Regions from separate parts of the Homo sapiens genome. Here region 2 is reported to be linked to region 1. Evidence: microRNA targets listed by miRTarBase, many of them from high-throughput screens and not tested one by one. Region 1 holds a microRNA gene; the other region holds the end of a gene's coding sequence.
Evidence for each region. The annotated mature microRNA hsa-miR-339-3p reads UGAGCGCCUCGACGACAGAGCCG and lies in region 1 at 3,889-3,911, opposite strand. An mRNA with a match to its seed (bases 2 to 7 or 8) in the 3' UTR can be bound and repressed. Matches are read on the target gene's strand: a 7mer-m8 pairs with bases 2 to 8, a 7mer-A1 pairs with bases 2 to 7 and ends in A, and an 8mer does both.

Region 1 (7,262 bases):
CGTCTGTAATCCCAGCTACCCGAGAGGCTGCGGCAGAACTGCTTGAACCCGCGGGGGGCAGAGGTTGCAGTAAGCCAAGATCGCGCCATTGCACTCCAGCCTGGGCAATAGAGTGAGACTCTGTCTCAAAAAAAAAAAAAAAAAACGGGGGGGGGGGAGTGAAAGGGAGGGAGGAAGAGGGTGAGGGTTTGGAGGGGCCCAACCAGGCCCACCTGTGGTTGCATGGATCTCTAGCCACCTGCAAAGCCAGAAGGTACCTTGAGCTGACAGGTCCGTGTTGTTCAATGGTTCTATAGGGAAAATCCTGCCCCCATGCCAGGTTGTTGATCACCCACGGTCAATGCTGGAAGGGGCAGCTGCTGCTCTGGGCCAGAAGGAGAGGCTTCCTGGCACCGTGAGGAGGCTGGCCTGGCTGCTCACAGCTCCCGGCAGAAATGCGGAGCGGGGTCCTCACTGCAGCACCCGGGCTTTTCAAAACAGTGAAGCCCTGAGTCCAAGAAGGCAAACCACAGAGCGGAGGTGGCCGTGGGGCTGCCCTGTGGGCAGAGGGGAGGCTGCGCAGGCCTAGTGGCTGCAGGAAGCTCCAGTGGCCGCCAAGAACCTCCAGGCCCATCACCACGAGGAGGGCCCCCACTGCAGCCAGGGCTTCCAGATGGGCAGAGGCGGTGGGAAGCAAGCAGGAAGCGGAGACTGGTTGGCTGTGGCCCTGACCCCTCTTCTCCTGATGGAGTGTGGGGGGCTGGGGCTGCCTGGGGTCACCCACTCAGGTCTCTCACTCCTGCCCTCCCAGGAAGTGGACAGTTCCCACAGCCTGGACCCAGAGGCCCGCAGGCACTGACCGCGGCCCGGAGGCCAAGCTACAGTGCGTTTCCCGAGGGAGGCCACGGGGCACCTGGACGAGGGCAGCTTAGGACGCTCGGCTCTCGTCTCAGGAATCCCAGGGCAGAAGTCCAGCGAGGCGGCAGGTGGCCGGCCCGTCCCCAGCCTCTCTTCCCACTGAGGAGAGATCCAAGGGCCGGCGGAGTGGTGGTGTCTGCTGCTCTGCGGGAACACGGGCACCAGGCCCAGCAGTGCATGGATGCGGCAGGCCCCGCGTGCGATGCCCTGGTCCCCACGACTGTTTCTTCCCACGCCGCGGAGTGCATTCCCTCATGCTCCCGTCCTGTGAACACGCGCTGCAGCCTCTGCCCTCCTGGGGCTCCCTGAGAGAGGGGGCACCCCTTGCTCCCATCACAGTCCTCCTGCAGCCTGGGGCCCCGCCCAGCACGCCCACCAAAGGGGAGGCCCGCTCTCCTGTCAGAGCCAGGACAGCCTCTCCAAGAACTCTTCCTGGGCCCCAGAGAGGAGCCCCCTAGGTTCGCTTCTCGCCAGCCGCTGCCCCATCTTGCGTCTCCACCCAAGGGCCCCTCGGCGCCCCCACCTGGAGCCCCCACTATCGAGATATGTCTGGCGGATACCACACACAAGGGGGCTGTAGCGGGTTGGGGAACAGGCCAACCCCTCCCAGACTGCAGGGACAGCTAGTCTCACACAGCTAAGACCAAGATGATGTAAGGAAATGAATGACAGTAAACCCAGCCCTTACCGAACCCACCTCCCGAGCAGGGAGGACCTGCAGGAAACAGAGGCTCCCATTCCTGTTCACCTCTGATCTCAGGGGCAGACACCAGCCCATCACTGCCGTCTGCTGACCACCCCTGCAGACGGCCTGGGCCTTGGATGTCCTGCTCCTCTGGGCTCCCCAGGCTGTGTGAAACGGAGGAGTGCAGGGGTCAGGACCCCTCGACTTTCTTGGGGGCAATCAGGCCGTTTGTAACGTCCTGATACAGCAGAGCTGGGGACTGGGGTTACGAAAGACACCACCAGGTGGAGCCTTCAGATGGGACCTCCCAGCAGGGCCTCCAGGCTGGGGACCTTCAGGCAGGTACCTCCAGGCTGGGGACCTTCGGGCAGGTACCTCCAGGTTGGGGACCTCCCAGCAGGGCCTCCAGGCTGGGGACCTTCAGGCAGGCACCTCCAGGCTGGGGACCTCGCAGCAGGGAACTCCAGGTTGGGAACCTCCAGGCTGGAGACATTCCAGTAGGGACCTTCTGGTTGGGGATCACCAGGTTAAGAACCTCCAGGTTGGGGACCTCCAGACTGGGGACCTCCCAGCACGGACCCCCAGGTTGGGAACCTCCAGGCTGAGGATCTCCCAGCAGGGACCTCTAGTGTGGACCTCCAGGCTGGCACCCATGGGGCAGGTTTCTTTCTTCTTCCCCAGAAGCCTTTTCATCGTGGCAGTAGGACCTGACCTTGACAGAGATGATATTGCGGATTTCAGTGACTGAACCAGAGTCGGAAGCTGAAGGGCTCTGCCCAGCCTTCCTGTCTTCATCCATTAAGTCTGATCGGCAGTGGTGGCCACCTGGGCTGCTGCTTTGACAAGATGCCAGTAGTTGGAGCTGGGACCCCAGGGAGCACTGTCCATCCACCGCACAGGAGTAGGGCTTCAGCAGCTGTCAGTCATCAATCATTTCCCCATGCTGTTGGATGGGAGAGGGACAATCTGCCAGCCCCAGTGTGACTGGCTTTGCTGCCACCGCAGTGCCCTCTGGGAACCCCGGCAGGTCGGCTGGAGGCAGGACACCACCCCCCTAACCCCTCCCTACTTGTCACCAGACAGAAACCACAGCTCACCAACAACCATACACAAACAGCGCACTAAAAGAAAGCATGCGGCAAAAATACCCGCCCAGCGAGAACTGTGCCTGGCACAGGGAAACACACTGGGATGCGCGCCCTTCCGCGGGGCGAGGCTGGGTTTTGGGGTATAAACTGAGTCCTGGGGAGCAGGAGCCTGAGGGGCACCCAGGGCAGCTCCCTCGGCCTGGGTCACAAGGTTCGATCCTCCGCGGGGGTGGCAGGAAAGCCCAAGTCCCTCGGCACACCCAGGTGACAGCGATGACGGCCCACAGGCGTGGCGCCTGGGCCACATCGGACAGGCCATGTCCTGGAGCACTCGAGGCCCCCTGGACAGGGCAACCAACCCTGAGTCCACCGGAGTCTGCTCGCAGACCACCAGGAGCCCCGCTGCACTGTTCGTGAGCCACGGTGGTGACGGCAGCTCAGGAGGGAAGGACCAGAAGCCTGGCCCCGTCCCACGAGGACAGACGCAGGCCTGCGGGGAGGCATGTCCCCACCCACGGGCGCCTCCTGGACCACGAGCTCCTCTTTCTCCTGCATCGCCTCAGACCCCACCCAGGGGTTCCAAGGTCAGGAGCCTGGTCCCACGTCCCACAGCCCTCTCATGGGGCACCCGTACGGATTCTGTTCCAATTTAAAGAAAACCTTAATCAGATTTGTCACCTCAATTATTAGAATCCCACGGCGTTAACTCACAGTAGTAAACTGCTTTTTCTGAGAAACAAGAGTTTTTTAAATTAAGCCTTTTATTTTAACGCAATCGCAGGTGACGGCCGTCGTGAGGGAACACGGGACGCCCACGTGCCCTCCACCACCTCCTCCCACGGCAACCCTCGCAGAGTAGCCAGGACCACATTCGGATCCGGACTCTGAAATGACAGTCCCACAACCAACAGCATCGATGTGGTCTTCTTAATGATCAGAAACACACAGGGGATTAATTTACTCTTATTCTGCAAAATAAACAAGCTCTCAAATTCTTTAAAGGTGAATCCCCCCCAACCGTCCTCCCTCCCCAGTTACTTCCTCCCTAGGACACCAGTGGAACATCCCATGCTCTCCCCCTTCCATGTTGATACCGAATAAAACACACTGCATCAGAAGACCCACGCATACGAGTCCAGGGGCTGCTACAAAGCGCGGCGACGTCTCCGCGGCGAGCTGGCCACTCCATGGTCCCGGCGCAGACACTGGGGCAGGCGCCGGCTCTGTCGTCGAGGCGCTCACAGGCAGGCACACGTGAGCTCCTGGAGGACAGGGAGAGCGGCCGCCCCGCCCCTGCGGAGCACAGGACGCTTCCTGCCACCCCTGCAGAGCATGGGACGCTTCCTGCCATGGTGCCGTGGCAATGGGTGGCACCTGCCTGTGGCCCCTTCTCAGAAGGACGTTTTAAACGCGTGAGGTCTGATGCACAGCCACAGGGAGACACAGACGAGCAGATGTGGGCATCCGAGTATTTACAAGGTCTGGTGGCTCCTGCAGCCGCGACACGGGCTGAGCGCAAGTGATGTGTGAGGTGTCCCCAACAGATGGCACGGGGAGCGCCCACACCCGCCACCGCGGGGTCTGCGGAAGCTCGTGTCAGCTGGAGGTTAGGGAAGACGCACAGGGGCTCATTCTCCACCCAGGTTCAAACTCCCTGAACTCACGAGACCCAGGCTGAAGACATGGACAGACTCCCAGCCCCAGCGCCCCTCTGACAGCACACCCGAGGCCTCCTGGGAACCTGGGACCCCTTGCAGGGTCCCCCGCAGGCTCCTTCCTAGGAAGGAGGTTCCTGCCCTACTCCACATTTCTCTCCATCCAACTTCCAACTCCTTCCCACTGGGCCCTGGAGAACATGACGAAGACTGTGGGGGCCTCCTCCCAGGAAACACACACACACACACACACACACACACACACACACACACACACACACACACACCAGCAACGCGCCCAGACCCCAATCCCTGGCAGCCCAACTCCTCGTTCTACAGAGAAGGGGTGAGGATCTCCAGGGGTGACTGCTCACATCTCGGCACATGTAGAAGGCAGGGCTGGAGCAGCGGCCCCTGCAGCCCAGGCCAGGGGACTGGAGGCCCTTCCACAGCAGCCCTTTCCTTTTGATACACGGTCTTGCTCTGTGGCCCAGGCTGGACTGCAGCGGCACCATCACAGTTTACTGCAGCCTCGACCTCCTGGGCTCAAGCAATCCTCCCACCTCAGCCTCCCAAGCAACCAGGACTATAGGCATGTGCCACCATGCCTGGCCAGTTTTTAAATTTTTTATAGAGATAGGACCAAGGCTGCTCTCACACTCCTGAGCTAAAGTGATCCTCCTTGCCGGCCTCCCAAAGTGCTGGGATTATAGGCATGAGTTTTCAAACTCCTGGGCCACAGCGATCCTTCCGGCCAGCCTCAAAGTGCTGGGATTATAGGTGTGAGCCCACGGTGCACAGCCCCCACTTTCTTCCTAAAAACCCTGCAGCTTGGCTGACAGTGGGACCTGCCTCCCTACTCCCGCCTGCAGGAGCTCAGAAGCCTCAGCTCAAGAGGAGCCCTTGCCAGAGACGTGGGACCAGGAATGGGCCCCACAGAGCCCTGCCCGTGGGCTTCCTAAACAGCCTGAGTTCAGCTGCACACACCAACGATGTAGGCGGGTTGCAATAAACAGCAAGAAACGGACCCATGGGACAGGAGAGACGCAGGAGCCCCAGGGGACAAGAGAGACGCAGAAGCCCCAGGTGCCTTTGGTGGCCAGTGCTGAATTTCGCAAGCAACATTAGAAACTTTTTATTTCTGCTTTTCTCTTAACCCAAGGGTGAAAATGGAAACCTGTGGTGTGGGGCAGTCTGCTGAACGCTAGGATGAGGGCGGGGAACAAGAGCCACCCTCCCCGCTGCCACCTGGCCCACAAGAGCCTTCCCAGGGGCTCTCCAGTTTCAGCCCCTCCTTGCCGAGCCAGACAGCGCTGCTGGCCTGGACGGGAGGGACACCCAGGCTGACTGAGTGGGGGAGCACTTTTTATAAAGATCAGATCAGGTTTCTGAAAACAAAAAGCCCCCAGATCCTGCGAGCGGCTATTTAGACTTGATGCACACTCCACCATTTCACAGGTATCCATTCCCCAGCGTCACACATGCCCATCCCCAGCTGGAGCACACTCTTCAGTGTGGAGGACAGAAGGAGCAGGCAGAAGACGACCCCGGGGCGCTGGGGGAGCAGGTGCGGGCTCCCACATACCTGCTCTATTCTGGTTGGAGGTGTCACAAGGGAAGGCGTGGAGATGCTGCCAATGGGGACATGCGGCAAATGCGCCCCCTTCGCCCCACACCTGTCAGCAGCTAGCAACAACTCAGTCCTGACTGCTGGAGACCCAGCCCCAGGGGCAGGCAGGTTGGGATCCGCTGCTCAGGAGGCAGCTCTGGGCCAGGGTGGAGGCCGGAGAAGCCAGGCACCTCCCCGCAGAGCTCTGCAGAGGCCAGTCTGCTAACGGCTTCATCACTGGAGTGGCGGCTGCTAAGAGCAAAGCCTGTGCTTGGTACCTCAGGGACCTAAATAAGAACCACTCCCTGTTCCAAGGATCCCAAGTGGGGGGAGGACGAGAAGCAGCTGAGCCTATAGGGCACAGGAAACTCACTGGGGTGTGGGTGCTGGGGACTTGGGTTGGGTGCTGTACTGAGCAAGCCTGTTGTGGGGGGACACTGCTGGCGGTGGGTGACGAGGTGCACAAGTCAGGTCAGGGAGGGGGACTCTGCCCTGGCACCACTGGGGCACAGGACACTGGCTCAGGTGTCAGCTGAGGACCCCCCAGTGTAGGCGAGGGGCTCACAGCCGCTGAGGCCTGTGGACACAGCTCCGTGTATTCTGAGGTCGCAGAGCACAAGAGGTTGGGGGTGTGATACGGACCGACCTCGCCCATCCAGGAGGAATGGGGCTGGTAACAGAGCTTTGTAACCCCTCAGCACCGGTAGAGGTTGCGTGGCTCCCCAGTGGAGCTGAGGGCTGGCGTTTCTTGCTCTGTATTTCCCTGCGCTCTGGAAACTCCTGCATCACCAGCCTTGGGCCCTTCACTGCCTCCCCTGGGCCTCCAGAGGCAGGCTGGGGTCCTCTCCTTTCTCAGCCTCTGTGGCCAGTGTCTGGCACAGGACAGACACCCACCAGGACGCTGCCTGGGACGGAGGGCTCCCTTCTGCCTCCGGCCAGGTGGGCCCCGCAGCAGCTCAAGCTTCAGCTGCAGTGGAGGGAAGAGTGAACTGCTGGGCAGAAGCAGAAGCAGGCCTCCTGGAACTCGTGACCCCAGATCCCAGAGGCCCTGCCCCCTTGCCACCTCCCAGAATGTTGGCAGGGCCTCTGGGTGATTTTCATCCACATGCAGGGGTGTCACATAGGCCCCTCGGCTCCAGCTCCCCACTGAACGGCAGCTTTGTATCCACAGGTAGGGCTGGGCGGCTCCAATTTGAACTTAGGCATATGGACGCTGTCTAACGATTCACGACACTCCTCGTTTCTTTCGCTACTATTGGACCAGTTGAGGGTGGAGCCCAGCTGCACCTGGCATTGCTGAAGAGCCCTCGCAGAGCCAGCGCTCCAGC
Region 2 (7,000 bases), not on the chromosome of region 1:
CTTCTTTTTCTCCATTTTTAACAAGAAGTTTATTTAAACAACAAGATGCTTGACTTTAAAGGAAAACTATTTAGGATTTTTTTTTAAGAGTAATTTATCTCTAGTTAAAGACAGATTGCCCTACATGTAAGAGCTATATACACGAAAAGTTATAAAATTGTCCTTGGTTTTACAATGATAAATGAAAAACATTAAAATTCTCCAATTGAATAAGGTATGCAAGGATTTTTTTTTTTTGTTAAAATAGTGAGAACAAAATAACATTGCAATGTAAGATAAGAGTTGAATGAGCATGCCACTGATGGAGAAAGGGAGGTAATTTTCAAGAATCGGTATTTTTCCCCACAGATATGTTTTGATTGACATCAAGTGGATGTCATTGGCCATTTAATATTTAAAACAGCAAAATGCTTGTGAACATACACCCATTATTTTATGTACAATAAGGGAATGGGTAAGGGAAAAATAAAAGAATAGAGAAAACTATACTATAGTAATAGTCATGATGTGGTGGAACCAAATTGCAGTTTTCTAATTGAGAATGTAATCTTGGTCTATAAGAACAAAGTTCTAGAGTAAAGAAGCAGGTTCCTTTTTCAGTAGACACTTCTTGTCTGTTGCTGAAACACATCAATTGTATCTTCATCCTCCATTTCCAACTGTGCAGGTGTGTCTGTTTCATTGACTGGTTGCCTGTCAAATTAGAATCTGATCTGCCTCACTGACAAACTCTGTCATTCACAATAGACTTTCATTACTCTACTAAGTGGTATATGACTCTTTTTTTTTCTTTTATGAGATGGCATCTCGTTCTGTCACCCAGGCTGGAGGGCAGTGGCGCGATCTCGGCTCACTGCAACCTCCGCCTCCCGGGTTCAAGCAATTCTCCTGCCTCAGCTTCCCAAGTAGCTGAGACTACAGGCACATACCACCATGTCCAGCTATTTTTTTGTATTTTTAGTAGAGACGGGGTTTCACCATATTGGTCAGGCTGGTCTCAAACTCCAGACCTCAGGTGATCCACCCACCTTGGCCTCCCAAAGTGCTGGGATTACAGGTGTGAGCCACCATACCCGGCCGGTATATGACTTTTAATTTTAAACTGCACCATGGAACAATCCTGCCCCATTACCTTCAAATTAATAAGATTGTTATTCTCAGTCTTGACTCCTTCCTTGGGCTTTTCATCAGCCACACGAGTGCTGGAGTCTCCTCAGCTGCTACTTCACCAATGAGGCACCAGGTCTGCACAGAATGAATGAGCACACAAACGGCACCAGGAGAGGCAGAAGGAGGTGGAACAGTGGAACTATTCTGGGTCTGCTACATTTTCATGTAAACTTTAGGATCAGTTGGTGATACTCACAAAATAACTTGCTGGGACTATGACCAGGATCACATTGAAGCTATAGATCAAGTTGGAAAGAACTGACATCCTAATATTGAGTTTTCCTATCCGTGAACATGGACCATCTCTCCATTTACTTGATCTTCCTTGGTTTCTTTTATCAGTTTTGTAGTTTTGCTCATACAAACCTTGTACATATGTTGTTAGATTTATTCCTAAGTACTTTTTTGGGGGGATGCTAATGAGGGCTGAATACGTGGAGGACAAGGTGCTTTTAGAACAGTGAAACTATTCTGTATGACAATGTAATGGTGGATACGAGACATGCATTTGTCAAAACCCATAGAACTTTGCAACACAAAGAGTGAACCGTAATGTAAACTATGGACTTCAGTTATCATAATGTATCAATATTGGTTCATTAATTACAACAACACACTAATGCAAGATGTTAATAATTGGGAAAATTGAGCTGGGGAAAGAGGGTTATATGAAACTCATTATACTATCTGCTCAATTTTCTGTAAGCCTAAAACTGCTCTAGAAAGTAAAGGCTATTAATTTTTTAAAAAATGGAGTACCAACTCCAAATGAAATGGAGACCCTCGTGAAGTCTTCCAATGCCTCCCTTGCCTACAGGATTGAGTCTGTGGTCTCTCACCAGCCATAGGAAGTCCTTCAGTTTGACTGCTCCTCCAGTCTACCCTCTACAATCCAGCCAGATGGAGTCACTCAGGGTTCATGAAGGAACCTGAGACTCTGCACTACTCCCTGGTCTGGAACATTGTCCTTCCTTTGTCTGGTCTGGAAATGCCTTCAAGAAGCTTCTGCAGACGTTAATTTGGGTACACAGAGGAATGATACCAGCCCACAGTATCTGTTTTATAATACCACCTATTGTGTTTCCGGCAGGACCTCTCAGTAGTTTCAGTAGTGGAACTGCTATTCCCACAGACTAAACCATAGTTCCCCAACTGTGCATCAAGGTGCCTGAGGGCACCCACAGCAAATTCACAGGGGGCAAAGTAGGATATTTTGAAAGATATTCAACATCTTTGGCTAATGAGAGAACTATTAGCTCAAGGTAGTTCACAGTTCCATTATTACATTATGCCACAATCCTTTTGATGATGTCATCTTTAAGAAGCTGGGTCTTGGCCGGGCGCAGTGGCTCATGCCTGTAATCCCAGCACTTTGGGAGGCCGAGGCGGGTGGACCACAAGGTCAGGAGAGCGAGACCATCTTGGCTAACGTGGTGAAACCCCATCTCTACTAAAAACATAAAAAATAAGCCAGGTCTGGTGGCAGCTGCCTGTAGTCCCAGCTACTCAGGAGGCTGAGGCAGGAGAATGGCATGAACTCAGAAGGTGGAGCTTGCGGTGAGCCGAAATCGCACCACTGCACTCCAGCCTGGGCAACAGAGCAAGACTCCGCCTCAAAAAAAAAAAAAAAAAAAAAAAAGAAGCTGGGTCTTTAGTGGTTGCTGTGATAAAAAGCAAATGAAAATCAATGTGGGACAGGAAATGAAGGCAGCAGTGTTTGCTTTGATTAGAAAATTTAACAAGTTGTTCAGTGCCCAATGGGCAGCATAGATCCCATTAGTAATTGCAGTTGTTTAAGAATGAAGGCTGGGCGCGGTGGCTCACACCTGTAATCCCAGCACTTTGGGAGGTTGAGGCGGGCAGATCACCTGAGGTCAGGAGTTTGAGACCAGCCTGGCCAAGGTGGTGAAACCCCATCTCTGCTAAAAATACAAAAAATTAGCTGGGTGTGGTGGCGGGCACCTGTAATCCCAGCTACTTGGGAGGCTGAGGCAGGAGAATCGCTTGAACCCAGGAGGCGGAGGTTGCAGTGAGCCGCAATTGCACAATTGCACTCCAGCCTGGGCGACAAAAACGAAACTGTCTCAAAAAAAAAATAAAAAATAAAAAATAAATAAAAATGCAAAAAAAAAAAAATAGCTGGGCATGGTGGCACATGCCTGTAATCCCAGCTACTTGGGAGGCTGAGGTAGGAGAATCACTTGAACCCGGGAGGCGGTGGTTGCAGTGAGCTGAGATCATGCCACTGCACTCCAGCCTGGGCAACAGAGCAAGACTCCGTCTCAAAAAAAAAAAAAAAAAAAAAGAATGAAATAAATATTGTTTCTTCCAATTCAGGTGTATTATTTTTTAAATGGCAACTAACTTGTTAGGACATAAATACTTTTTAAGTGATTTGGACTTAACTACTTAATAAATTGAACTGTTATTTCTTTTGGCTTAGAGGCTCCATGAAAAAATTACTGAGATGGTAATGGTGCTGTGAGCTAAGAAAGTTCAGGAACCTATAGTCTAAGAGATTATCTAATCCAGGGCACTTCAAAAACTTGCATATGTGAAATCAATTTAGTGGGTTATAGCCATATTTTTTTCCCTAATAAAACAGAAGGGTAAGCAGAGTACACTGCATGTAGCAAGGGTAAATATTATTGTGTAAAACTTTTGTTCATTTTTTTTATATATATATACACACACACATATCTACAAGTAATCATGTGTATATTGGGTCACAATGTAAAATGGTTTGAAAAACCACTAAGATTCCAAGTCCCTTATTTTACTGATGAGAAAACAGCCAGAGAGTGAAAGCTGATGATTACAAATCACAGCCATGAGAGCTGGGCTCTGCACTCAGCCCTGCTGGGCTGGGTGGCCGCTGCTCACGGTGACCCTTCAAGGCAGGCCTCATTCTGTCCAGTAGAGGTGTGGTTACTAAGTCATAGAGCTACAGAGGTGAGGGACCAGGTGCCCTCACTTTGGTTCCAAGACCCATCTGCACCCCACAAATGCCACCAGCCACACCTAGAACAAAATGGTTTTAATCAATTGCGTCACCCTCACTCTCCTGGGAGCGGAGCAACAAAAAGGCTCGGCTCCTGCCCCCAGAGGACAGTAAGGCTTATGTGTCTCTCCACACTGCAGGGCCCAGGCTGGGCAGGCAGGGGGTGGGAAGCAGGACAGGGGGCAGGGAGGGAGGGTGGGAGGCAGGGAGGAAATGGCAGGTGGCTGGAACACAAGAAAGCAAAGGGGACCCAGCTGGTCCTTGGGCCCCAGGGCCCAGCCCCAATACTCCTGCTCTCCCTTCTCCCTGGCTAGAGAAAGGTCACGGAGAAGAGACAGGGGAGCAGGTCCCAGCAGCAGGAGAAGCAGCAGCAGCTGTTTCCTTCACCAATAAATATACTTCATTACCAAGCTAGAAGAGAGGGGTGGGAAGAGGGACTGGGGTGGGAAGGAAGGGGGAGAAGCTGCCACCTGTGTTGCTGGGATTAAAGCAATGAGATGGTGCCAGACCCCCCACCACTATCCTCACCCTCCACTTGTCTTCTTAAAACTGTGAAAAAGCTTTTAACATGGCCCTCCTGTCTCCAGGGCTGCTCTGAAGCCTGACTGAGAGGAGGCACCTGGCAGAGACAGGGGCTGAGGGAGGGAGCGAGGGAGTGGAGGGAGAGGAGAAGGGAGGCTGCTTTTCCCCAGGGGCTGCAGCTGGAGGGCTGGAGCCAAGTAAGCACTGAAGGGGAAGCAGGGAGGGAGAGAGGGGGAAGGATGAACCAACTACCTGGAGCAGCTGGAGCTAAGAGCCGGGGGCAGAGGGGAGGAGAGGCCTGGTGAGTGGTGGGTTGATCGCTGCATCCAGTGTAAAGCTTGGGGCTGCTGGGGAGGGAGGGGCCGAGTAAGGGACTTTCCCATCTGAGTGGCTCAGGAGACCCACCCCTCTCCCCTCAGAGCAGCAGGGGACAGAGAAAAGCCATCACTTCTTTGGTCTTTGTGGCGGCTCAGCATGTGGGATGGGAAGGAGGGCAGAAAGGGCAGAGAAGGGCCCTTAGCAGGAAGCGCCACCTCAGCAGAGTAGGCCTGGCTGGGAGCTCTGGCAGAAAGGTCACAGTGAGGCTGAGGAGCGCCCAAGAGGAGAATGGCCGTAGTGCAGAAGTGCTGGCATGGATGGGTGGGGTAAGGTGCAGTGCCCCACCCTCTGCCAGGGCCCTTGGGAAAGGCAGAGCCTCCAGAGGTGGCCAGTGAGAGTAGGTGCAGGGCCAGAGCTAGTAGCCAGGAGAGGAGCGAGGGTGCTCCACAGCGACCTCAGCAGGTGGCCTGGTCTTGCCCACTCCAGGGCTCCCATCCTTCCTTTGGGCTCCGCTCTAACACTGGTGGCTCTGGAGGGAGGGTGGGACCCATCCTTTTTCAAAACCTTTCCTGAAGACCACAGGGGAGCTAGCCTTGCAGGCTAGGGAGCAAGAGTGGCAACAGGCCAAGGCGAGCCCTTACCAATTGGGAATCCCACTCCTCCTGCTGCTGCCAGCTAAAGGGCAGGACAGTCCCTGAAGACAGTTCAGCTTGTTCCTCCCCACCTGAGGCAGAAGGGGTTTTGAGGCAGGCCAGAGCCCTCCAGGGACATGAAAGCAGGAGATGGGGGGGGGCATATGGAGGGGTGTCCCCTCCTGCTCTTTTTTTCAGGGCTGGGGATAGTCAGGGGACAATCAGCCCAGAGTCCGAAAGCCAGCAAGTTGTAGCAACCTCCACCCCTAACGCCAAACTAACAAACAAAACAGGGGAAATGAAAAAAAAGGGTGGTGGGGAAGACAAACCAAAACAGAATCCCCTGACCTCCTGCCCAGGGCAGAGGGTCCAGCCAGTAGCAGGGGCTGGGGACCAGGGCTGGAGGGTCTAGCTGGGCCGGCACTGCACCTGGCCCTCAGAGCTGTCCTCATCATCAGAGGCCCCGGCACCCCCACTGCTCAGGCCCGTGATCCGGTAGCCCATGTTGAGCAGCATCACCTCCAACGGGTCTGCATTCATGCGCCGCTGGTTGGCCTGTGAAGCACCCTCCATATCTTCCACGACTCGGCCTGTGAGGTCTTCACTCTGTGGTGGAGAAAGGGGTGACACACGTGGGGCTCAGGGAGGGAGAGGCACCAGGGTACACGTATAGGGGAGGGGGAGGGAAATACACAGACTAAACTATCTATAGGGGGAGGTACACATACATGCCAGGAGGTGTATATGGTGGAGGGGAACACACAACCTTGGCTACATATTGTTGGGGGTGCTCACGCTGGAATATATATGGGAGATACGCCACCTCAGGATATACAGGCAGGTCATAACATGCTGGGATATACGTGGGGGACAGTACACACCAGGATATGTTGGACACACATACTGGGATACCTGGGACAAGGGGCAGATACAACTTCCCCACCCCATTCTGTTTTGTTGCCACAACTCTTGCTTCATCTTTCTTTCTCCTCTCCTCTCAATGGGGAAGCCTATAGGGGTCCTCTCTTTAAAAGTCACAGCAAATTATCTTGGGAATCAGACATACCACTTGACTTTTGTTTTGCCAGCTGGGAAGAGGGAAGCAGTAGGGCAGAGGGGAAGGGGAGGCACCAAGCCAGCTTCCCTGGCTACCCACCCTGGGAGTGGAGGGGACTCCACTGTCCTAAGTGTCCTTGTGGGCTGGACACTTCACAGGCATCTCTTCTTTACTTCTCACCACAACCTTTCAAGGTGGTGCTGTCATTCCCATTCCCAATGTACAGATGATTAAAAGCCTGGGTCAGAGATGGTGAAGTCTCTCAGGCAGCGAGTGAGGAGACTGGATTCAAACTTAGGC

Region 2: miRTarBase lists WDTC1 as a target of hsa-miR-339-3p. Seed matches in the 3' UTR shown: 7mer-m8 at 5,283-5,289.

What each region holds. Positions count from the first base shown.
Region 1 is chr7:1,019,067-1,026,328 of GRCh38, forward strand. MIR339 (microRNA 339) reads right to left here and starts at 3,960; the gene lies at 3,867-3,960. All of the region lies in intron 2 of CHLSN (cholesin), which reads right to left. RefSeq lists an enhancer at 4,071-4,628.
Region 2 is chr1:27,305,435-27,312,434 of GRCh38, reverse strand. It overlaps WDTC1 (WD and tetratricopeptide repeats 1), which reads right to left. Exons shown (of 16, transcript NM_001276252.2): 16 at 3,799-6,249. The coding sequence ends at 6,052. Among named protein-coding and RNA genes, the nearest start is that of TMEM222, 13 kb to the left of the region's middle. RefSeq lists enhancers at 3,603-4,127, 4,128-4,653, 4,654-5,179.